4 linked regions of the Homo sapiens genome follow. The protein of the gene in region 4 interacts with the protein of the main gene of each other region in a biochemical or structural test. Each region holds a gene or a part of one and is shown on either strand. Other genes may lie near its edges. The genes, in order: SUMO2, PRPF31, CDC5L and CTNNBL1.

The links.
Region 1: the proteins of CTNNBL1 (region 4) and SUMO2 form a complex in vitro, tested with the Homo sapiens proteins (one large-scale study listed by BioGRID).
Region 2: the proteins of CTNNBL1 (region 4) and PRPF31 interact in a biophysical measurement, tested with the Homo sapiens proteins (one study listed by IntAct).
Region 3: the proteins of CTNNBL1 (region 4) and CDC5L form a complex in vitro, tested with the Homo sapiens proteins (3 studies listed by BioGRID and IntAct, with this or other methods).

What each region holds. Positions count from the first base shown.
Region 1 is NC_000017.11:75,168,785-75,175,188, reverse strand, and holds part of SUMO2 (small ubiquitin-related modifier 2 isoform a precursor), read left to right. Parts: intron 1-365; coding exon 366-437; intron 438-6,404. UniProt on the Homo sapiens protein: Ubiquitin-like protein that can be covalently attached to proteins as a monomer or as a lysine-linked polymer.
Region 2 is NC_000019.10:54,124,312-54,128,983, forward strand, and holds part of PRPF31 (U4/U6 small nuclear ribonucleoprotein Prp31), read left to right. Parts: intron 1-187; coding exon 188-345; intron 346-2,188; coding exon of another isoform or gene 2,189-2,216; coding exon 2,217-2,306; intron 2,307-3,761; coding exon 3,762-3,889; intron 3,890-3,993; coding exon 3,994-4,066; intron 4,067-4,672. UniProt on the Homo sapiens protein: Involved in pre-mRNA splicing as component of the spliceosome. Required for the assembly of the U4/U5/U6 tri-snRNP complex, one of the building blocks of the spliceosome.
Region 3 is NC_000006.12:44,417,441-44,423,844, forward strand, and holds part of CDC5L (cell division cycle 5-like protein), read left to right. Parts: intron 1-2,008; coding exon 2,009-2,157; intron 2,158-5,206; coding exon 5,207-5,369; intron 5,370-6,404.
Region 4 is NC_000020.11:37,772,424-37,778,827, forward strand, and holds part of CTNNBL1 (beta-catenin-like protein 1), read left to right. Parts: intron 1-4,921; coding exon 4,922-4,994; intron 4,995-5,230; coding exon 5,231-5,289; intron 5,290-6,404. UniProt on the Homo sapiens protein: Component of the PRP19-CDC5L complex that forms an integral part of the spliceosome and is required for activating pre-mRNA splicing.

The sequences.
Region 1 (6,404 bases), on a different chromosome or scaffold from region 4:
CAACCTGATGAAACCCAGTCTCTACTAAAACTACAAAAATTAGCCGGTTGTTGTGGCGGGGGACCGTAGTCCCAGCTACTCTTGGGAGGCTAAGGCAGAAGAATCGCTTGAACCAGGAGGTGTAGGTTGCCTTGAGCTGAGATCACGCCACTGCACTTCAGCCTTGACAACAGATCAAAACTGTCTCAAAAAAAAGAAAATGAAAATCACCCCAAATCTTTTTACCTATAGGGTATGTTAACATGTTGGCAATTGTTTATTTAGGTATTTCTTTAATATATTCATGGTTAAATATGCATGTACTTTTATGTAAATAGAATTCTGTTTCTCTTAATGCTGTTTATTGCTTTTAAATTCTCGTTCAGGGATTGTCAATGAGGCAGATCAGATTCCGATTTGACGGGCAACCAATCAATGAAACAGACACACCTGCACAGGTAAAAAAATCTCTCCTAATTAGAAAAATTACCATTTGTAATTCTTTGAACAGCTGTGTTTATGAATTTGAACGTTTAGACACTGGAGTATAAGTTCTTGTAGAGTTCAGAGCTTTGGGAAGTATGACCAGAGGGGAACAGAAAGGAAAATAGGAATAGGCTCAGGAAATGCCAATGGTTTTTATTCATTTATTTTTAATTTTCATTTTAATTATTTTTTTAGGGACAGGGCCTCTCTGTTGCCCGGGTTGAAGTGTAGTGGCCTCATTATAGCTCACTGCAGCCTTGGCCTCCCAAAGTGATGGGATTATAGGCACGAATCAATGTGCCCAACCCCACCAGTGGTTTGTGTTTGTTTTTTGTGACGGAATCTCACTCCATCGCCCAGGCTTGAGTACAGTGTCACGATCTTGGGTCATGGCAGCCCTCGCCTGCCATGCTTAAGCAATTCTCCTGCCTCAGCCTCCCAGAGTAGCTGGGATTACAGGCATGCACCACCATGCCTGGCTAATTTTTGTATTTTTGGTAGGGATGGGGTTTCACCATGTTGGCCAGGCTGGTCTTGAACTGCTGACCACAAGTAATCCGCCCGCCTTGGCCTCCCAAAGTGTTGGGATTGACAGGTGTGAGCCACCGCACCCAGCCAAATCCTCACCATTTTAGTTCTACATGCTGAATTGAAATTCTCTTTTACGTGTCTTCATGAACAAAAAGGAACTAATAGCCCTAATTGCCACGTCCCATAGCTTTGTTTGACAGGGAGAGCCCCTGATAATAGGAGATTTTCCAGATCCTTACTACAAAACGTGATGCTCTCTGATCCTTTAACTCTTTATGTACCACTTCATTTTGTTCTGTCACTTTCTGTAGGATCAGCTGGATTGTCTTCTGTGGCAGAAGCTCTTTGTTTCTTTTTACCCTTTCAAAGTTCCATTAAATACTTCCAGTTTTGTCCTAGCAGGGTGGCTCATGAGAGCCATTTTCAAGATTACAAAGTGCTTGTAATGCCAGCACTGTGACGCCAAGGTGGGCGGAGCACTTGAGTCCAGGATTTCAAGACCAGCCTGGGCAACATGGCAAAACCCTCTCTTTACAAAAAAATACAAAAATTAGCCAGGGAGCAGTGGTACGTGCCTGTAGTACCAGCTACTTCTTAGGGTGAGGTGGAAGGATTGCTTGAGCCCAGGAAGTGGAGGCTGCCGTCACCCAAGATGGTACCACTGCACACCAGCCTGGGTGACAAAGTGAGGCCCTCTCTCAAAAAAAAAAAAAAATGACTTCCAGTCTTGTCCTGACTTGGTGGCTCACACCTGTAGTCCTATCACTTTAGGAAACTGACACTGGCAGGAGGGTTGCTTGAGGCCAGGAGTTTAAGACCAGTCTGGGCAATATAGCAAGACCTGGTCTCTACAGGAAAGAAAAAGAGCTGGGCATGGTAGCATGTGTCTGTAGTCCCAGCTTCTTGGGAAGTTTAGTGGGAGGGGTGCTTGAGTCCAGGAGTTTCAGGCCGCAGTGAGTTATGATCATACTACTGCACTCCAGCCTGGGCGATAGAGCAAAACTCTGTCTCAAAAATAGAAGACTTACAGTTTCTGAAACATATTTTACAATGTTGTGATAGTAGAAATTTAAATTGGATCCCATGTACTTTTGAATTTCAACTTTATCACCCAGTAAAAACTAGAAAGTGATAAATGTGGCATGAAGCAGCACATCCAGATTGTAGTTTTGTTGATAATCTTTGAAAATTGGAAAAGCCCCTGAGTTGTACTGAAAAGAAGAATATTTTGAAGACATTTCAACTGGTGACAGTCTCTCAAAAGGAATTACGGGCCAGGTGCACTTGTTCACACCTGTCATCCTAGCACTTCAGGAGGCTGAGGCAGGCAGATTGCTTGAGGTCAGGAGTTTGAGACCAGCCTGGACAATATGGTGAAACCCCGTGTCTGCCAAAAAATACAAAAATTAGCCAGGCATCGCCGGGCGCAGTGGCTCATGCCTGTGATCCCAGCACTTTGGGAGGCCGAGGTGGGCGGATCACCTGAGGTTGGGAGTTTGAGACCACTCCGACCAACATGGAGAAACCCCGTCTCTACTAAAAATACAAAATTAGCTGGGTGTGGTGGCCTGTAATCCCAGCTGCTCGGGAGGCTGAGGCAGGAGAATCGCTTGAACCCAGGAGGCAGAGGTTGCAGTGAGCCGGAGATCACGCCATTGCACTCGAGCATGGGTAACGAGCGAAACTCAAAAAAAAAAAAAAAAAATTTAGCCAGGCATGATGGTGCACGCCTGTAGTCCCAGCTACTCAGGAGGCTGAGGCAGGAGAATCACCTGAACCCGAGAGGCGGAGATTAAAGTCAGCAGAGATAGTGCCACTGCACTCCAGCCTGGGTAACAGCCCCTGTCTCAAAAAAAAAAAAAAAAAAGTCTGGGTACAGTAGCTCACGACTGTAATCCTAGCACTTTGGGAGGCCAAGGCAAGTTGATCACCTGAGGTCAGCAGTTCAAGACCAGCCTGGCCAACATGGCGAAACTACCCCGTCTCTACTAAAAATACAAAAATTAGCCGGGCATGGTGGTGCTCACCTGTAATCCCATCCCAGCTACTCGGGAGATTGAGCCAGGAGAATCTGGGCGGGGGAAAGGTGTCAGACAGTCGAGGTTGCAGTGAGCGCGGAGGTCATGCCACTTCACTCTAGCTTGGGTGAAAGAGTGAAACCCTGTCAAAAAAAAAAAAAAAGGCGCAATTATGGTATGTAGCCACAAGGAGGAGCTAAATTCTATTGATAAATGAGGCTGGTACAGGAACCTCATTTTTTAAAGGCATTTACAGTTTCACTGTAAAACTTCACATTTGGATAATTTTGTTTTAGTAGATAGATGACAGGCTTGTTTGGTTTTAAAAGAAATAGTAAAAAGTATCTATTGTGCTGTACTCTCAGTTATTAGAATGTATTTCCTGTCTTTAAGCCCTCCTTACCCACCACTAAAACGGGATTATCTGCTATAGTAGTTACAAATATTAAACAAGGAGTTATTTGTTTGGATCCGTGACCTTGAGGCATTTTAAAATCTTCAGGTTGAATTTGCAATTCATTTTACTTCATTTTGAAGAATTTGGAATTGATTCGTTTTAGAATTATTCTCCCAATATTTGTTAGATAGCAGGATTGTGATAAATTAAAACATCTTAGCAGGCCTCCTGCCTCCCCAGCTTTTTTTTATTTTTTTATTTTTCGAGACGGAGTTTTGCCCTGTCTCCCAGACTGGAGTGCAGTGGCGTGATCTCAGCTCACTGCAACCTCTGCTTCCTGGGTTCAAGCGATTCTCCTGCCTCAGCTTCCCGAGTAGCTGGGATTACAGGCGCCCACCATGATGCCTGGCTAATTTTGTTTTTATTTTATTTGTTTATGTTGTTTTTATTTTATTTTCTGTATTGACGGAGTCAGTACAAAATTAGCTGGGCATGATGGCGCATGCCTGTAATCCCAGCTACTTGGGAGGCTGAGGCAGGAGAATTGCTTGACCCGGGAGGCAGAGGTTGCAGTGAGCCAAGATTGCGCCATTGCACTCCACCCTGGGCAACAACAGCGAAACTCCATCGCAAGAAAAAATAGAAAAACACAAATGTAGTCATACAATAAGCTGCTTTGCTCCTTGGGGTGTACTTTTTTTTTTTTTTAACTGCCCCTTACAGAGCATGGCTAACTTATATAGTCAGTGCACCGAGTTGGCTGCTGCTTAGTTTTAAAATTGTGTTTTTAGCCTAACACTGTATCTACTGTATCTTAAAGATATTTTCATTTCTGTACATGAAAATCTTATTTTTTAACGGCTATATGGTATTTAATATCTGAGCATACTATGTTTTATTAATTTGGGTTTTTTTTTTTTTTTTTTGAGACCTGGAGTCTCGCACTGTCACCCAGGCTGGAGTGCAGTGGCGTGATCTCAGCTCACTATAACCTCCACCTCCCAGGTTCAAGTGATTCTCCTGCCTCAGCCTCCTGAGTGGCTGGGATTACAGGCACCTGCCACCATGCCCAGCTAATTTTTTGTATTTTTAGTAGAGACGGGGTTTCACTATGTTGGCCAGGCTGGTCTCGAATGACTGACCTTGTGAGCCACCACGCCTGCCGTGGGTTTTTTGTTTTGGTGTTTTTTGTTTTTGTTTTTGTTTTTTGAGACAGAGTCTTGCTCTGTTGCCAGGCTGGAGTGCAGTGGGGCAATCACAGCTCACTGTAACCTCCACTTCACGGGTTCAAGTGATTCTCCTGCCTCAGCCTCCCGAGTAGCTGGGACTACAGGCGTGCGCAACCACACCCAGCTAATTTTTGTATTTTTGGTAGAAACAGGGTTTCACCATGTTGGCCAGGATGGGTTTGACCTGTTGACCTGGTGATCCGCCCACCTTGGCCTCCCAAAGTGTTGGGATTATAGGCGTGAGCCCCGGCGCCCAGCCTAATTTGGGTTTTTATTGAGATTTGTTTTCAGTCTTTGCTAAGCAGTGCAGCGAGATTCTTTAAACATATCACCCTTCTGTGGGCCCTCGACACAGACATATTCAGCTTTCATTTATTTAATTTTTTTGAGACAGTTTCTTGTCACATGCAATGGCATGATCTTGGCTCACTGCAACCTCCACCTCCTGGGTTCAAGTGATTCTCCTGCCTCAGCCTCCCAAGTAGCTGGGATTACAGGCGTGCAGGCGTGCGCCACCACGCCCAGCTAATTTTTTTGTTTTGTTTTTTGTATTTTTAGTAGAGACTGGGTTTCACCATTTTGGCCAGGCTGGTCTTGAACTCCCGACCTCAGGTGATCTGCCTGCCTCGGCCTCCCAAAGTGTTGAGATTACAGGTGTGAGCTGCCACACCCGCCCCCCCCCACCTTTTTTTTTTTTTTTGAGACCAAGTCTCACTCTGTCACCGGTGTTGGAGTCCAGTGGCACAATCTTGGCTCACCACAACCTCTGCTTCCTGGGTTCAAGCGATTCTCCTGCCTCAGCCTCCCGAATAGCTGGGATTACGGGCACATGCCACCATGCCCGGCTAATTTAAAAAATATTTTTAGGCCGGGTGCAGTGGTTCACGCCTATAATCCCAGCATTTTGGGAGGCCGAGGAGGGTGGATCATGAGGTCAGGAGATCTAGACTGTCCTGGCTAACACGGTGAAACCCCGTCTCTACTAAAAATACAAAAAATTAGCCAGGCGTTGTGGCGGGCACCTGTAGTCCCAGCTACTCGGGAGGCTGAGGCAGGAGAATGGCGTGAACCCAGGAGGCGGAGCTTGCAGTGAGCTGAGATCCTGCCACTGGACTCCAGCCTGGGCGACACAGGGAGACTCCGTCTCAAAAAAAAAAAAAAAATTTTTTTTTAATAGGGATGGGGTGTCACCAGGTTGGCCAGGCTGGTCTTGAACTCCTGACCTCAGGTGACCCGCCCACTTCAGCCTCCCAAAGTGTTGAGATTACAGGAGTGAGCCATTGTGCGTGGCCCTAGCCTTTTTTTCTCTTTTTTTGATACAGGATCTTTTGCTTTGTCACTCAGGCTGGAGTGAGCTGGTGTGGTCTCAGTTCACTGCAGCCTTGATCTTATGGGCTCAATTGATCCTCCCACCTCGGCTTCCTGAGTAGCTGGGAGTATGGACATGTGTCACCATGGCTGGCTAATTTTTTTTTTTTTTCCTTTTTTTTTTTGTAGAGATGTTGTCTCCCTATGTTGCCCAGGTGGTCTCGGTCTCTTGGGCTCAAGCAATCCTCCAATGTTGGCCTCCAGTAGTACTGGGATTACAGGCATGAGCCACCGCACCTGGCTAATATTCTGCTTTTTACTCAAAAACTAAGTTTTGGCTGGGCGCAGTGGCTCACACCTGTAATCCCAGCACTTTGGGAGGCCGAGGCAGGCAGATCACTTGAGCTCAGGAGTTTGAGACCAGCCTGGCCAACATGACGAAACCCCATCTCTACT
Region 2 (4,672 bases), on a different chromosome or scaffold from region 4:
GAGCCTCCTTTGCATCTGCCCCTTGCGGAATGGGCCAGGTCGCCCGCCTGGCAGGGCCATCGAGGAATCCAACCAGAACTTCATGTAAAGGTGCCCAGCACACGTCGAGCCCCCAGGCAGATTTACTCACCCCCACCTCTCTGCTTTCTTCTGACCGCCCCCCCTTCCTCCCTCCCTCCCACCGCAGGTGTGGCCGGCGGCCTGACCAACCTCTCCAAGATGCCCGCCTGCAACATCATGCTGCTCGGGGCCCAGCGCAAGACGCTGTCGGGCTTCTCGTCTACCTCAGTGCTGCCCCACACCGGCTACATCTACCACAGTGACATCGTGCAGTCCCTGCCACCGGTGAGCCCACTGCGTCATGGCCCCTCCCCCGGCCCCCCTGGAGCCTTCCGCTGTGCCCAGACAGCCTGAGCAGCCACCCACCATCTGGCCCAGCTGACGGTAGCACTCAGGAGCTGGGAACAGGGTGGCATGGGACGTGAGAGCCAGGGCTCTGCAGCAGACCAGCTCCAGCACCCACCAGTCAGGTGACTGTGGGCAAGAGGCATGAGCGCCCTGTGCCTCAGTCTCCTCCCCTATCAAATGGGAGCACAGCGCCTGCTTCATGAGTTGGGACGAGGGCTCAGTGCACATGAAGCACTTACAGTTCAGGCCTAGCTCACGACAAGCAGCGTCGGGTTAGCGTGCAACTGCTCCGAAGACCACCCTCAGGTTTGACCATTCACTAGAAAGACTCACAGAATCCACTGAGGGCTGCACATCAGCCATGGGGAGAGACACACAGGAGGGGCAGGAGAGGTCACCAACCTCGGAGCTTCCCGGGTCCTCTCCCTGCAGTCGGGACACATCACCATCCCAGCATCGACGCCTGACAGCACACACACAGGCCCGCTAGCCTGGCGGGGCGCAGTGGCTCGTGCCTGTCATCCCAGCACTTTGGGAGGCCGAGGCGGGCAGATCACCTGAGGTCAGGTGTTCGAGACCAGCCTGGCCAACATGGTGAAACCCCATCTCTACCAAAAATACAAAAAACTAGCTGGGTATAGTGGCACACACTTATAATCCCAGCTACTTGGGAGGCTGAGGCAGGAGAATCGCTTGAACCCAGGAGGTGGAGGTTGCAGTGAGCTAAGATCATACCACTGCCCTCCAGCCTGGGTGACAGAGTGAGACTCTGTCTCAAAAAAAAAAAAAAACAAGCAAGACAGGTTCTGGGACAGACAGGCCTGGGTCCAGACCCTGCTCTGTCCAACTGTGGCGAGTTACCTCAGGCTCACGGCCCTGTGCCCTGCCTGGCCTCCCCCAGGGATGGGGAGAACAATAGCACTGATGGCCAAGGCTGGGCAGGCACTTCCTGGCCCCACCCCCCAGCCCTGTGTGGGGTTTTTTTTGTGGTCTTTTCTGCGACCCTTTAGGTCAGGCACTGCTACTGGAACACACCCAGGGAGGCTGGCAGGTCACCCCATCCTGGGAGGAGAGAGAGTGGGCGATAGAACCCAGGACGGGTGGGCCTGGGGCTCGGGGCTCCAGCTGCCTCACTGCACCCCTGCCATCGCCACCGCCTCACAGCCCTGGGCATATGGGTTAAACCTGCCCCAGGGAGCCTGATGTCTTGTCACCCAGGCCTCTGCCTCTTCATTTGGCCATCTCACATCGGTCCAGGCACAGGCCGTAGACACCACAGGCCTGTAAGGGAGGCCAGGGCTGGCCATCGCTTCACTGTGGCTGACAGCTGGGCTCTGTTTGCAGTTTGGATTGGAACCCTGGCTCCATCACCTGCTGGCTGTCTCCCTGGCCACATGACTTGAAGCCTTGGTTTCCACATCTGAAAAGGGGGTGCAATGATCACACCAGCCCGATATTTGAATATTTGATGAGATGATCCGAGGGGCGTGCTTAGCATGGGGCTGGCATCCAGGCCGAGTGCACTCCCCCCGGCGTCTCCACAGTCACCACCGTCCTCGTTGTCAGCGTGCCTTACTGTCATCCTTACCTGATGGCCACTTATCAGCTGGGACATGGCTCTGTGCCCTGCCCTCATCCCCTCTTCCTGTGAAGTAGGAGCTGAGAGCACACACCTCTAGAGCCCAAGGGTGGAAAGCCCCCTTCCAGGACCCCAGGTAGAGCCAGAGGAGGAGCGCGCGCGGTTGCTTTGCTGTTACCTCTGTCTGTCTGTCTCACACAGATTCCACCCCCGTTTTCCGTTGCTCCAGGATCTGCGGCGGAAAGCGGCCCGGCTGGTGGCCGCCAAGTGCACACTGGCAGCCCGTGTGGACAGTTTCCACGAGAGCACAGAAGGGAAGGTGAGGAGGGAAAGGTGAGGGGCGGCCGGGCGTCTTTTCCTCTGGGCCTGGGGTGTCTCTGCAGGGAGACCCTCAGCAGGGAGCCCACCCCAGCGAGCACTGTCCTACCAAGGCGGAGGCAGTGCTTCTGCCCACCCTCCCTGGGGTCAGGCACCCCCTTCCCCAGTGGGGTTTCCTAGGTCTGCTGTTGGAAGGTAGCATGAACCTACTGGCTTAAAACAGTGCAGGTGTGGCCGGGTGCAGTAGCTCACGCCTGTAATCCCAGCACTTTGGGAGGCCAGGGTGGGCGGGTCACAAGGTCAGGAGTTTGAGACCAGCCTGGCCAACATGGTGAAACCCCATCTCTACCAAAATTAGCCGGGTGTGGTGGCACGCACCTGTAATCCCAGTTACTCAGGAGGCTGAGGCAGGAGAATTGCTTGAACCTGGGAGACGGAGGTTGCAGTGAACTGAGATTGCATCATTGCACTCCAGCTTGGGTGACATAGCGAGACTCCATCTAAAAACAAAAACAAAAAACAGTACAGGTTTATTATCTGTGGTCCTGTAGGTCAGAAGTCCAAAATGAGTTTCACTGGGCTGAAGTCAGGGTGTCATCCTGGAGCGTTCCTTCTGGGGGATTCAAGGGATAATCCATTCCCTGGTCTTTTCCAGCTTCTAGGGGTCACTGGCACCCCTTAGCTCGTGGCCCTCCCTCTGTCTGCGGAGCCAGCCACATAGCACCCTCAGACCTCTCTCTGACTCTGCTTCTGTCTTCATATCTCCGCCTCTGTTTTTGTTCCCCTCTTCTATTTTAAGGGCCCCTGTGGCTATACTGAGCCTACTCAGATGGTCCAGGATAGTCTTCCCAGCTCACAATCCTTAAAATCCTTCTTAACCTCTTCACGTCCCTTTTGCCCTGTGATTCTGGGAATTAGAACATGGGCCTCTTTGGGCATGTGTGTGTTGGTGGGGGCGTAATTTGCCTTCCACACCAGGATCTGTCCCCGCTGCAACAGGGGATGTTATTCAAGTAATTATTCAGTTACCTTCTGTCTTCCTTGGTAGATGTACTCGGGAGAGGAGACGTTTTCTGTCTTGTGAACTGTCGTTTGCCAAGCACCCGGCCTGGCACAGCGTTCAGGTGTTCCGTGTCCCCTTCTCCTTTCCCTCTCCCCATCTCACCCCTGGTCTGGGTGTGGGGGTGCAGCTGTGAGTAGCACAGACAGGACCCCTGCCCCGTGGCGTGGACATTCTTGTTGGGGCCGGGTCAAAGAGACAGTCAACAGGTGAACTCTGTCCTGCGTCTAGCGGTGCTAAGTCAACACCAAGAAGAAAAAGAAAGGGGGTGGCGGTGAGGCAGCATTAGGTGCTGATTTAACTAAGGCACGTGGATACTCGGGGGGCCCGCTCAGAGGAGGCCTGGGTGGGCAGCCCACGCGAGCAGCTGCAGGACCTCCCCCTCGCCCTCCCCAGGTGGGCTACGAACTGAAGGATGAGATCGAGCGCAAATTCGACAAGTGGCAGGAGCCGCCGCCTGTGAAGCAGGTGAAGCCGCTGCCTGCGCCCCTGGATGGACAGCGGAAGAAGCGAGGCGGCCGCAGGTGAGGGGCCCTGGGGGTCCGGTAGGCATGGGGGTCATGGAGGGGAGAAGCCGGCGTCCTCCTCCCAGCCGACTCCCTGGCGCCGCCCACCCACCCGTCCCCAGGTACCGCAAGATGAAGGAGCGGCTGGGGCTGACGGAGATCCGGAAGCAGGCCAACCGTATGAGCTTCGGAGAGGTCAGACTCCCAGAGCGCCCTCCTCAACCCCACAGCCAGCCAGCCGCCACCGCCCTCTGCCTCCTGCCACCGCCCCTCCTCTCGTCCTGTGGCCCTGGCTCATGTCTAGGGCGCTGCCCCAGCCTCCCCCCCCCCGGCCTCTATTCTCGTTTCCATCCGTTCAGCCCCAAAGCGACCCTCGCGACCCTTGGAGCCTGTGTCTCCGCTGCTTAGAGCCCCCGCGGCTTCCCATCGCCCCGGGCTCCTTGGCCGGTTCCTCCCTGCCCAGAGGCTCCTTAGTGCCCTGCTGCACGGCCGCCCCGTCCCTGGGCCCCGCCAGTCTCCTCTGTTATCCCAGCGTCATCCCCTTGGTCCTGCAGGACCGAACTCAGAGGCCACCTCATCCTATTAAACCTGTTCTGGTTCCTGACATCCCCCGACCCACACGAGTAAGGAAGGAATGGCCTCCCAACTCTGAGCTCACAGAGCAGTGCTGGGACCGGGCCCCTCTCAGGCTCCCCAGCATCCCCCGCGTGTGTGGGCCCCCAGGCCTCAGCCGGGCCGAGTGGGTACCGGAGCAGGTGCCCGTGGGACCGGCCGGCTGGTGACCGCTGGGCTTCGGGCTGG
Region 3 (6,404 bases), on a different chromosome or scaffold from region 4:
TTGTTGTGTTCTGTTGGTTTCAGGTGAATCACAAGCCCACCTAGATTTATGGGGAGGGAACATAGACCCTACCTCTTGATGGAAGGAGTATCACAGTTGGATTTTAAGAACATGAAACATGAGAGAGAAGGTTGTGACCATCTTTGGAAAATAAACTTTGCCACAGGCCCTAAGTTGGACATAAAGAGATTTATGGGTACAAAGATAGCACTGAGGACAGGGTTACAGTGAAGGGACTAAAGAGAACATGGTCAGTTCTGCCTAAAGAGATCAGCAAGACTTCTGAAAGGGACCTGACCCCCACAAGTTGTTTTCTTGTGCAGTGGAAAGGTTGCTTGGGAGTATCTTAAGTTCCCAGTAGAAGAAACAGACCTCAGAGATACTAATGAAGACTGGATAGAGAATTCAGTGGTGAAGCCAGACTAAAACCCAGGCATTCAGACATTTGGCCTAAGCTGGGAAATTTGAATTCTTGTAATAGTAATTTCATATGTGAGGCCACAAAAGCACACCTCTACACATAAAACTTTATTTGATGTATAAAACTTCTTTTTAAATTTTATTATTATTATACTTTAAGTTTTAGGGTACATGTGCACAATGTGCAGGTCTGTTACATATGTATACATGTGCCATGTTGCTGTGCTGCACCCATTAACTCCTCATTTAACATTAGGTATATCTCCTAATGCTATCCCTCCCCTCTCCCCCCACCCTCCAACAGTCCCCGGAGTGTGATGTTCCCCTTCCTGTGTCCATGTGTTCTCATTGTTCAGTTCCCACCTATGAGTGAGAACATGCGGTGTTTGGTTTTTTTGTCCTTGTGATAGTTTGCTGAGAATGATGGTTTCCAATTTCATCCATGTCCCTACAAAGGACATGAACTCATCATTTTTTATGGCTGCATAGTATTCCATGGTGTATATGTGCTACATTTTCTTAATCCAGTCTATCATTGTTGGACATTTGGGTTGGTTCCAAGTCTTTGCTATTGTGAATAGTGCCACAGTAAACATACGTGTGCATGTGTCTTTATAGCAGCATGATTTATAATCCTTTGGGTATATAGCCAGTAATGGGATGGCTGGGTCAAATGGTATTTCTAGTTCTAGATCCCTGAGGAATCGCCACACTGACTTCCACAATGGTTGAACTAGTTTACAGTCCCACCAGCAGTGTAAAAGTGTTCCTATTTCTCCACATCCTCTCCAGCACCTGTTTCCTGACTTTTTAATGATTGCCATTCTAACTGGTGTGAGATGGTATCTCCTTGTGGTTTTGATTTGCATTTCTCTGATGGCCAGTGATGATGAGCATTTTTTCATGTGTTTTTTGGCTGCATAAATGTCTTCTTTTGAGAAGTGTCTGTTCATATCCTTCGCCCACTTTTTGATGTGGTTGTTTGTTTTTTTTTTTTTTGTAAATTTGTTTGAGTTCATTGTAGATTCTGGGTATTAGCTCTTTGTCAGATGAGTAGGTTGCGAAAATTTTCTCCCATTTTGTAGGTTGCCTGTTCACTCTGATGGTAGTTTCTTTTGCTGTGCAGAAGCTCTTTAGTTTAATTAGATCCCATTTGTCAGTTTTGTCTTTTGTTGCCATTGCTTTTGGTGTTTTAGACATGAAGTCCTTGCCCATGCCTATGTCCTGAATGGTATTGCCTAGGTTTTCTTCTAGGGTTTTTATGGTTTTAGGTCTAACATTTAAGTCTTTAATCCATCTTGAATTAATTTTTGTATAAGGTGTAAGGAAGGGATCCAGTTTCAGCTTTCTACATATGGCTAGCCAGTTTTCCCATGATGTATAACACTTCTAATGTGATGTGTTAGATTGATAGAAGGAATGGAAACATTGAAATCTGCCATGACTGGTATTCATTTTCTCTGTTAGCTTTCATTGAGAAAATGAGTAAGGATTCTGCCTGCTTCAAGATTGGTATAGTAGGACCAGAAGAGATTCTGCAAGTCTGTCTAAACTTTTAAACTTGCTTCTTTGTCTTCTTGTTAATCAGGAAGCCCAGAACCTCATGGCCCTCACCAATGTGGACACCCCATTGAAAGGTGGACTTAATACCCCATTGCATGAGAGTGACTTCTCAGGTGTAACTCCACAGCGACAAGTTGTACAGACTCCAAACACAGTTCTCTCTACTCCATTCAGGTATTGTAAATGAACACGTTTTTATTTTAGAAAAACTTGAATTCAAGGACTTAGCATATTTGCTTTAGTAATGTTTACGGAGAATGACTACTTATTGTGTTGGATTTTCCTCTTTGATTTCTTCTTCATAGTAATAAATAATAGTGTCCAGGAAATGGTTAAATACTGTGGAGTGCCTCCCCCCCTTTCTTTAAGATGGAGTCTCGCTCTGTTACCCAGGCTGGAGTGCAGTAGCGCGATCTCAGCTTACGGAACCCCTCTGCCTCCCGGGTTCAAGCGATTCTCGTGCCTCAGCCTTCTGAGTAGCTGGGATTACAGACATCCGCCACCATGCCTGTCTAATTGGAGTGTTCTTTTGCAAAGCTTCGGATCCTATCACGTTATTTTTGAATACTTTGTATTTGATTTTAGAGTAGATTGATTCATTTTTAATGATTACTTTGTGAATTTTATTATGTAATCCTTTTATGTATGTATTACTATTGCTTTCCCTCCAGCATTTTATTATGAAAATTTCAGGCATTTAGAAAGGTTGAAAGAATGTGTGGAAGTTATCAGTATTGAAATGGAGTCATTTATGTTACATTTTAATGAAAAAGGAACCCTCATGCGCGTATGCCTATGACAGAAATTATTGCAGGGACCTTCTGAAAACCACACAAATTCCAGATAAGTTGCTTCTGTGAAGACATTGCCCTACCAACAGCCAGTACAGGTTGAGCATCCCAAATCTGAAAATCCAGAATGCTCCAAAATCCAAACTTTTTTTTTTTTTTTTGAGACGGACTTTTGCTTTTCTTGCCCAGGCTGGAGTGCAGTGGCGCGAACTCGGCTCATCACAACCTCCGCCTCCTAGGTTCAAGCAATTCTTCTGCCTTGGCCTCCCGAGTAGCTGGGATTACAGGCATGCGCCGCCATGCCTGGCTAATTTTGTATTTTTAGTAGAGACAGGGTTTCTCAGTGATGGTCAGGCTGGTCTCGAACTCCTGACCTCAGGTAATCCACCCGCCTTGGCCTCCCATAGTGCTGGTATTACAGGTGTGAGCCACTGCGCCTGGCCAAAATCCAAACTTTTTGAGCACCAACATGACACTCAAAGGAAACGCTCATTGAAACGTTTCAGATTTTGAATTTCCTGATTTGGCATGCTCAACCAGTAAGTATAATGCAGTTATCCCCAAATCTGAAAAAATCCCATATCTAAAACTCTTCTGGTCCCACATTTCAGATAAGGGATACTCTTATCTATACCGGCAATGAAAACAAATGCCACCTCCTGTGATAAGTCCCTGTAACCAATGGTCTTTGTTTCAGAACAGTTTGCGTAGACTCCTCCCTTGTATCTTTAAAAACTTCTCCTTGCCCCAGCACCCTCAGTTGTACCTATGGTCTGTCATAGCACACATATCCCACACTGTAATCCCTTGCCGTTCCCGAATAAACTCTTTGTTTTGGAGACCCGGTCTCTCACCCATTTAAGTTGACAAATGGTAAAGTGAACATCCATATACCCACCACTTAGATTCTAAGATCGTTAATATTTTACTATATTTGCTTTATCACATATCCATCCACCAATCCATCATAATTTTTAATGCATTTCGAAGTAACTTGCAGGTAGCAGTTTGTTTGATCCCAAAACACTTCCACATGCGTTAACTAGAATTCAGTATTTCTTTATAACTCTTGCTTAGTTTTAAGCTGCTGTTTTTTAAGAAGAATCTTTAAAATACAAATGTTATGGAAGCATGTAGTAGGAAAATGGAATTGGAACTTACAATGGTTGGAAATATTTGGGGTTTACTTTGAATTTTAAGTGTTAAGATATGTCTTCCTACTGGTTATTTAGTAGAGAAAGCACTTCAGGCTATTACACATATCATGACAGCAGAACCAAGAAGCATTGGCAGCCAGTCTTAAACATTTAACACTTCTTGAGAGTCTTGTAAGAGAGCATAATCCCTCATTTCCTATGTTTAGTCGGCTCTCTGTATCTGAGGATTCCACATCTGTGAATTCAACCAACTGTGGATAAAAAATATTCCAAAAAACTCAAACAGTACAACAATAACAAATAACACAAATAAAAATACAATGTACCAACTATTTATATAGCATTTACATTGTATTAGGTATTATAAGTAACCTAGAGATGATTTAAAGTACATGGGAGGATGTGCATACGTTATATGCAAATACGATGCCGTTTTATATCAGGGAGTTGAGTATCTGCAGGGAGTTGAGTATTGGTCCTGGAACCAATCCCCGGTGGATACTTAGGGACAACTGTATGTCTTGTCTCTCACCTAGATTGTAAAATCCTTGGGGGTGGGAACCATGTCTTATGTGATAACACCTTACCTATCAGGAATAGCTGTCTGGCAGCATCACCGTTCTGCAACACACCAATATACAGGAAATAGGCAACCAGGAAAAAAAAAGACTTTGAATAATTAAAATATAGGTTGCTGCAAAATCTGTGGATCTTATTCCTAGGAGAATCTCTTAGGCCTCACTCAGGAACTTACTCATGTTTAGATGTGATTTCAAAAGTGTGGTGTTTGGTTTCCAAACAAAATGTAAAAGGAGGAACTATTTAATAAAGTGTGTACATTTGTAATAATGACAGTGATAGTGATGTGAGAACCAACAGCTTGATAGGGAGGGAGGAGACAAATATACACAAAACTCAAAGAGTCATCTGGGGTCATTGAGTGTGGTGGCCCACCTCCCTGCCCACTGCATGTTCTTAGTCGCCCTAATGTGCCAAGAAAAGGTTGAAATAATGTTTAGTGGACGTAGTTTAGGAAGGCAAGAAAATATCAAATGTAGTGATTATTGTAAGTCAGTAAAATAAAAATACCATGCTAGCTAGACCAAACATTGATTTTAACCTAGAGATCCTAACAAAACCAGCTGGACAGAATTTTGAAATCTTTATTCTTTTTTTTTTCTATATTTCCTGTGAAATAATTTATGTGAAAAACATTTGAAAGCACAATCCAAATGTAAGTGGCACTTCTGTTAATTGGGATTCCTGTCTTTCTAGGACTCCTTCTAATGGAGCTGAAGGGCTGACTCCCCGGAGTGGAACAACTCCCAAACCAGTTATTAACTCTACTCCGGGTAGAACTCCTCTTCGAGACAAGTTAAACATTAATCCCGAGGATGGAATGGCAGACTATAGTGATCCCTCTTACGTGAAGCAGATGGTAAATGTCAATTCCCTTTTAATACTCTTAAATTTTTTTTTAATATCTCATGGATGCCAAATTAAAATTTCTCCTGTTAGTGCATATCACATATACCTTAAGAATCTATACACCTGTGGATGCCAGAAAAAGAATTATTTGTAAGACTTGATGAAAGGGAATATTTTGGGCTCAAAACCCACCTTTCTTTATGCTTACTAGGTTTGTGAATATTGATGTTCGTTGTTGATTTCACTGAAGTTTTCTTTAGCAAGCTGAGGTAGAAAGCTAACTGTAAAAAGTTAAGTTTTGCTTCTGCCCGTGTTACTGCGTTTATTACTTTGCTATTGGGCCTTATTATCTAATGCCACAGAAATCATTGTGAAATTAAAAAAAAAACTTCTAATGATACTGGCTTGTCTTCAGTTTAAAATTAATTCTAACCTCATGTATATATTTGGTTGATTTATATATGTTTTTTAAAGTTCAAATTGATATCAACTAAAGCCAACTCTGAATGGATACATAAGAATTAAATAGATTAAGAACCTCATGCATGCAGAGCATGCATTTGGACATTTGAGGGGATCTAAAGTTGAATAAAGATGTCCTTTGTCCTAAGGAAATTTATATTCTGGGGAGATTGACAGTACTAAACTAAGTCCAAAAATAATTGCAATATCAGAACAGAATAAGCCCTTTGAGTAAAACCAGTGTGCTTAGGGTAGTTAAAGAAGGGAATAGTCACATTTGTTGGGTAACAGGAAAGCCTTATTAGAGGAGCTATGTTCTGAAGGAGGGTGGGGGCTGTCTCAGATGGAGACTACAATATGAGTAAGCATGGAGGATGTTTTAGATATAGCAACTCATCTGTTCCTCACACCTGGTACATGTAAGCACTGAGGATGGATGGGAAAACTCTGGGTACCAGGAGGCTTTTTTGGGAACCAGGACTCTACTTTCTTTCTTCTGCATGGGATTTAGTATTTCCATTAAAAATAAACACATACATACAAATTCAAGTATCTTTTAGAGTGGATTTTATTAGTCCAAGGA
Region 4 (6,404 bases):
CTGCAAGCTCCGTCTCCTGGGTTCACGCCATTCTCCTGCCTCAACCTCCTGAGTAGCTAGGACTACAGGCGCCCGCCACCACATCCGGCTAATTTTTTGTATTTTTAGTAGAGATGGGGTTTCACCGTATTAGCCAGGATGGTATCGATCTCCTGACCTTGTGATCCGCCCGCCTTGGCCTCCCAAAGTGCTGGGATTACAGGTGTAAGCCACTGCGCCCGGCCCAGTCTGAGTTTTAATAAGCCCTCAAGATGATTCTGATGTAAGCTGAAGTCTGAGAACCAAGGTTCTAGAGTAATTATGTCTAGATTGCTTGATAAAACCTTACGATTTGACTGATCATCTCATATTTATTCAGTAATCCTTGAGTGATTCTTAAGTGAGTGGCACACTGGTGACAGCATTCTAGTGTTGGATTTCTCCTTTTTGTACTGGTAGCCTAGCAGTATATAGAGATATTCATGGATCTCTTCATCCAACAAATCAACCCCCACTAATTTATTCTTATGAGGATAAAAACCACTGCAGATGATTGCATTAAATGGATTAACAGGTAAGTAGATAACAGTAGTGTGAGAGATGCTGCATCACAATTAATGTTTTTAATGGGGAATACAAGCTTATTAAGATATTACGTACTATTGAAAATAACAGCAAAACCAAGTATAAGATTCCCTCTTGTTACCCAGTTAAATCAATGCTTCAGAAACAGTTGCAGCGTTCAGTTAAGTTATATTACATGTACAACTGGTTGATGCTAAAGTTCTTAGCCTCTATGACCAGAGGTTGGGATTTTGTAGGGCACAATCTGCTTTGACAATTGTACAGAGCTGTAGATATGTCTGAACCTGCCCCATGTGTTCCAGGTAGCAGAGGTGAGCTACAGATATAACCTGCAGCTTCTGGCTGTGAGTGGTAGCATAATTGTTTTGTACTTTCCAGAAAAGCAGCAGCTCCCAAAAAGGTGAAGTGTAATTTTATTCAAGGCTAGTACATGCTGAGTACAAACCTATGCATGACTCTATAATTACTCTGACAGCTGAAAGATTTAAGAGAGCCAGGCTCCTGGATAGAAGAGAGCCCTACAAGTTCCAAGTCCCGCTGATTAACTTTGCAAAATCCAAGAGACTATACCTGCTAAGTAAAATCTCCTTTCTCCTGATTTTGAATAAATGTCTTTGAAATTTGGCAGTTTGGTATTGTGCAATCTCTGGCTGGGATTTAAACAGAAATAAAATATGCTTTGTAAGTGTTGTCTTTGGCTAGACATGAAAGATTACTTTCCTTTCTTCCCACCTGGCCTAATTTCTTCTATTTCTTTTCTACCAGATTAAAACATTTGGTTGTCATCATCATCATCATCACCACTAAGTTTTCATCATCTGATATGAGTTTCATGTATTGACTGCTCACTACATGCTAAAGTGTTTTTCTAGAACCTTCTTCTTTCTTTCCTGTCTTTTTCTTCTTTTTCTTTCTTTCTCTCTTTTTTTTTTTTTTTTTTTTTTTGAGGCAGGGTCTCATGCTGTTGGCCAGGCCAGAGTGTTGGTGCCATCACTACTCACTGCAGCCTTAACCTCCCAGGCTCAAGTGATTTTCCAACCTCAGCCTCCCAAGTAGCTGGGACTTCAGGTGCACACCACCACACCCAGCTAATGTTTGTAGTTTTTTGTAGAGATGAGGTCTCACTATGTTGCCCAGGCTGGTCTTGAACTCCTGGGGTCAAGTGATCCTCCCGCCTCAGCTTCCCAAAGTGCTGGGAGTACAGGTGTGAGCCACTGCGCCTGGCCACATACATTATTTCTAATCCTCACAAACAGCCCTGCCAAGAGGGTGCAGCTATCCCCAATTTACAGATAAAGAAATCCCAGAGAGAGAGGAAATGGTGTTGCCCAAACCACATGGGAACCACGTGAGAGAGCCTGTGAGCATTGGGCCTTGGCATCTTTGAAGCCACCTCCTCTTGCCAAGCTGCTTCTCAGCTGGCACTGCTTTTAGGTTCTGAAGCATTGCAGAGCTCAGCGTTGGGGAGTTATCGGGCCTCATCATTTTGGTTTCCTGATTAGATTCTTCCTTCATGCCAATTTCTCAGTCAGAACTTATATTTTAATTTAAAAATGATGAAGTTATCAGTCTGGTTTTTAAAAACTTACTTTGGTTAAATTGGAAACTCTTAGTAGTGTCTTACAGCAAAAGGTGGAGATTTCCTGTGGAACCAAGAATTCTCAGTAGCAAGAAACTCAGCTGGTCGGTGCCTGTTATGTATACACCAGTTCCCTTAGTACAGCCACTTCATGAGGAAGATATTAATTTGGCCAGTCTCATAGCTGGTAACTGTTAGAGCTCAGATTCTAATGCAGATATTTCTGGTTATGGTTGTCAGAAAAACTTGTGGTACCTACTGTGTGTTAGGTACTTTCATATTATGTTTTTAAATTCTCATAGTAACTCTCCAAATAAGTGGGATTTTTTTTCTATTTCTTTTTTCTTTTTTTCATGTCAGTGCCCTTAATCAAAAAAGTGCTATTTTTTATTTTCATTTTACAGATGAGGAAACTGAGACTGAGAATGTTTCTTGGGTCATAGATTCCCATTGTCAGCTTACAGCATTCTTAGTGTCTCAGTAATTCTGTTTTTACAGCACCGCTATGCCAAAAAGTACCTAATAGTCTCATTTATTAAGTAGTTATGTCCAAACCATTTAATATATATTTATGTCCTTACAATTTATTAGCCATTTGAGAAGATAATACACACAAATTGAAAGAAAAAATATTTTTATTTCATTCTTAAATATCATAGTTACTTCCTAATGGTATGTGTGCCTTTTGGTACTGCTCAAATCCTTAAACCTTAGGATCAGATTGAACGCTACGACCATCATTCTGATTTCACATCGATTTTCACAGTTATTTTTGTCAGAGCAGCTATCCAAACGCAGCTCCACAAAGATATGATGTCACCAGAAGAAATGTAACTTGAGCTCCTGGTTAATGCAGTGTTCAACAGATGTCACATTTCACTGTGTTCTCCTTGAAAATTTAACATATCCTGTGGTGAATTAAATATGACACCCCAGTTGCCACAGCGCAAAGTTGGAGAACTGCAGATTTGAGTCAACCTTAGGTGTGTCTAATGCCAGATCTGTGTTTTATTTTCCTTTTTTAAAATTTGATATTTCTACAAAATTAATTTTAATTCAGTGTAAGGTTTTTAAATGCCACAACAGTGGACAGAGTTCAGATCTAAGTTACCCCTGTTTGTTCTCTTGCTTAATTCTGTGTCTTCCCTATAGCAGGTGCCTAATAAGTATTTATTGAAAGGAAGAAAAACTCCCCCCAACTTGAAAACAGGAGCTTACAAAATTGAATAAAGGACAAGAGGCATTAGATCCACAGAAAGGCCATGGCTCTAGTGACCTACTGTCTTTTGGCTTCTTTCAGTTAAGTGTCTTGTTTTAAACAAGAACCATGGCCCTTGCAATGCTAATGTATAAGTTGGTGTGGCTTAAATCTTTTAAAATATAATAGCAGTACTTGGAACTTACATAATTTGAGTGGGAAATTTTATTCGCAAATCCTTGATTTTGATAGAGATGCTTACTCCTTGGCTTTTCACCTTCATGTTTTGATTTTCGTTAATATGAAACCATTTTTCTTAAAGTGAAACATACCACAGGTTGCATTTAAGCCCTGACTATTATGCTGAATTTCTTGAAACAAGGCTTCAAGCTCGCCCAGGGAGCATACCTTACATTTAGCACATGTAAGACCTTGCATTTATAGATCTTTTAACCTAAGATGGTCATACTTGGTTGACCTCCTGAAACCCTGTAGGCTGCACTTAGCTTGATGAGGAAGACGTGCACAGAAAACTGAAATGATACTGAATATTGCTTGATTAGGTACAACTCTTCCTCTTTAAGTATAAAACCAATATCTAAACAGATCTGTGAATGGCGGTAAGGTGACGGAAGTGTTAGTTCCAAGATAAACACTTCCCTTGTCTTTTCCAAGTACAGAAATTCTTTGTCATTTCAAAAACACAGATAGGTAGCAAAGGTTGCTGCTGATTAATAATCATTGTTTACATGCCTGCATTTTAAGGATCATGGGCACCATAAATAAAAACACACCACTGAGACTCGCTCCTCTCTATGCACCTTTATCCAGGGGGCAGTGATAATGGTGAGATATTTAAGTCTCACTACCGAAGCAACACTGAGGACAGCCATGAAAGATAGTCTGTGCAGTAGATGTGTCCCCTCTGAAACTCCCAAATAGCAGAGCATGCAGCGGGGAAAGAATTGTGGGTAGTAATTTGGGTGTTAAAATATTAACACATTTTTGCATATTTAATGTGGTTTCTGTTTTAAGTAGTAGGCAGATTATGGCATGCAAGCAGATAAGTTTATGATTTCAAATTAAATTTTAAGCATTAAAAAAATCCAGAAGGAACTACTTTGTGATAAATACATTCAGTTAATCAAGAATTGCTTTCTTCTCTGCTCATATATTAACTAATTTATAGCCTAATTTCATGATTGTAACTTGTGAATTAAGCTTCATGGTGAGTTTTAATCTTAAAAGTTCAAAACTCTCATTCATCTAGTTCACATTTGGGTACTATGGGCTAGACATATATAATCTCTGGACTCAAAATGGGAAATCTTGGAAGTCTTCACCGAGGAGGTAACCTTAATACCTGGGCATTAAGAGTGTGAGAGCCATTGTTTCAATCTGTCACTTTACTTGGTTCTGGTCTCTTGAGAGCAGAGGCAGACGTTTTTACCCTTAACTGCCTTTTCCTTTTCTAACTTCTGCTTCTCTCTAACTCAGATCATAGTACTCGTGAAAAATTTGTCCTGGGGAAGGAAGCAAGACCCCTTAACATTTTTCTCATTTCTCCTATTTCCCCATAGGCAAAGATGCCTTTTGATGCCAACAAACTGTATTGCAGTGAAGTGCTGGCCATATTGCTCCAGGACAATGATGGTGAGGCGCCCTCTCAGTATTGATATTCTGTTAGGATAGGAGCCAGGCTTGTTTCAGATCATGACAGCAAGCTCTCTTGCCTTTGGCATCCCCTTGCTCTCCCTCTCACTCCCTGTGCTGCTTTTGTACTCTGTCAAGCTGTATTGATTTTGTTTGCTGATGTATCAGTGTTAGACGGCTGTAAAATCTGACAGTTAGGTTCATTTTTTTTCTTCCTCTATTTTTTTCCCCTTTAGAAAACAGGGAATTGCTTGGGGAGCTGGATGGAATCGATGTGCTTCTTCAGCAGTTATCCGTGAGTAATTCTTATGCTTCCTGTCTGCTGTAAGATACATGGTCTGCTTTGAATGGGAGGTGGAGCTGGAAACTGTGGGAAGGAATAAGCCATGTGCTGCAAGCCATATGGAGCATGTTGGCAGGTTTGAGGGTTATACGGAGGGACATGGTTTGCCTCCTTTTCTTAGTCATTTGCTCTTTATGACCAGACATCACTGTGTATCAGTTCTGAACTTTCTTCATCTTCTGATATGATATTGTCAACTCAAAAAAGATGTGCCTCATGCTTAAGTGTGTATGTTCTGGGCCAAGCATACCAAATTATTTTCATTTGACCCACTGCCAAGATTATTCACCAACCTTCCTTTCAATCTGCTGTGAAAATGGAGTATGTTCATTTAGGATCTGAATAAGCTCAAGGAGTACAAGTTCCACTGCAGTGGGGTGGGGGTCAAGGGGAGGATAGGGGAGGATGTGGTGCTGAAGGCTGGAGTGAGAACTTGGAAACTGCCATTTTCTCACTGTAAGAAATGTAAATCCAGTTGAAATGTTATTCTGCTGGCATTCTGAAAATACTGTTAAGATTTCCTCTTACAAGTTTTAGCTGTGTTATTCTAAAAACAGGACTGAAAATAGATCATTTGGATAAAATCTTAAGAGTGTTGGGAGAGTCTGAGATGTCAGTTTGCATACAGCTTCCATCTTGGTGCCAGCAGCCTGAGTGTCTTGGCCTCCACCCCAAAAATAGAGCTTTGAAATGTGAATCTGTTTCCAGTTCTGGGAAGGTGCTTAGTCCTTTTCCTGTGAGATTATTGATCTTCTTGTAGTAGACTGTATGGGTATGCATATACAGTTTAAAGGCTTCTCTTAACATGCCTTACATCTCTGGCAAAAAGAAAACTAATGCTGTAAGCCCTTCCCATGAATTAAAGCCCCAGCTCCCCTGTGAGGGAATTCAGTAGCCTTGGTTGTCAGGAAATGCTTCCTTATATTGAGCCACGATTCAGCCCTCTGGATTGTGGTTGCTTTTAGAAGGGAAAGAAATGAGATATGGTTGGGTTGGGCAAGTGGAGGGCTTTGAGGGGAGTTGGCAAAGTTGTTTCTCATCCTGGATAATGATTTCAGGGGTGTTCA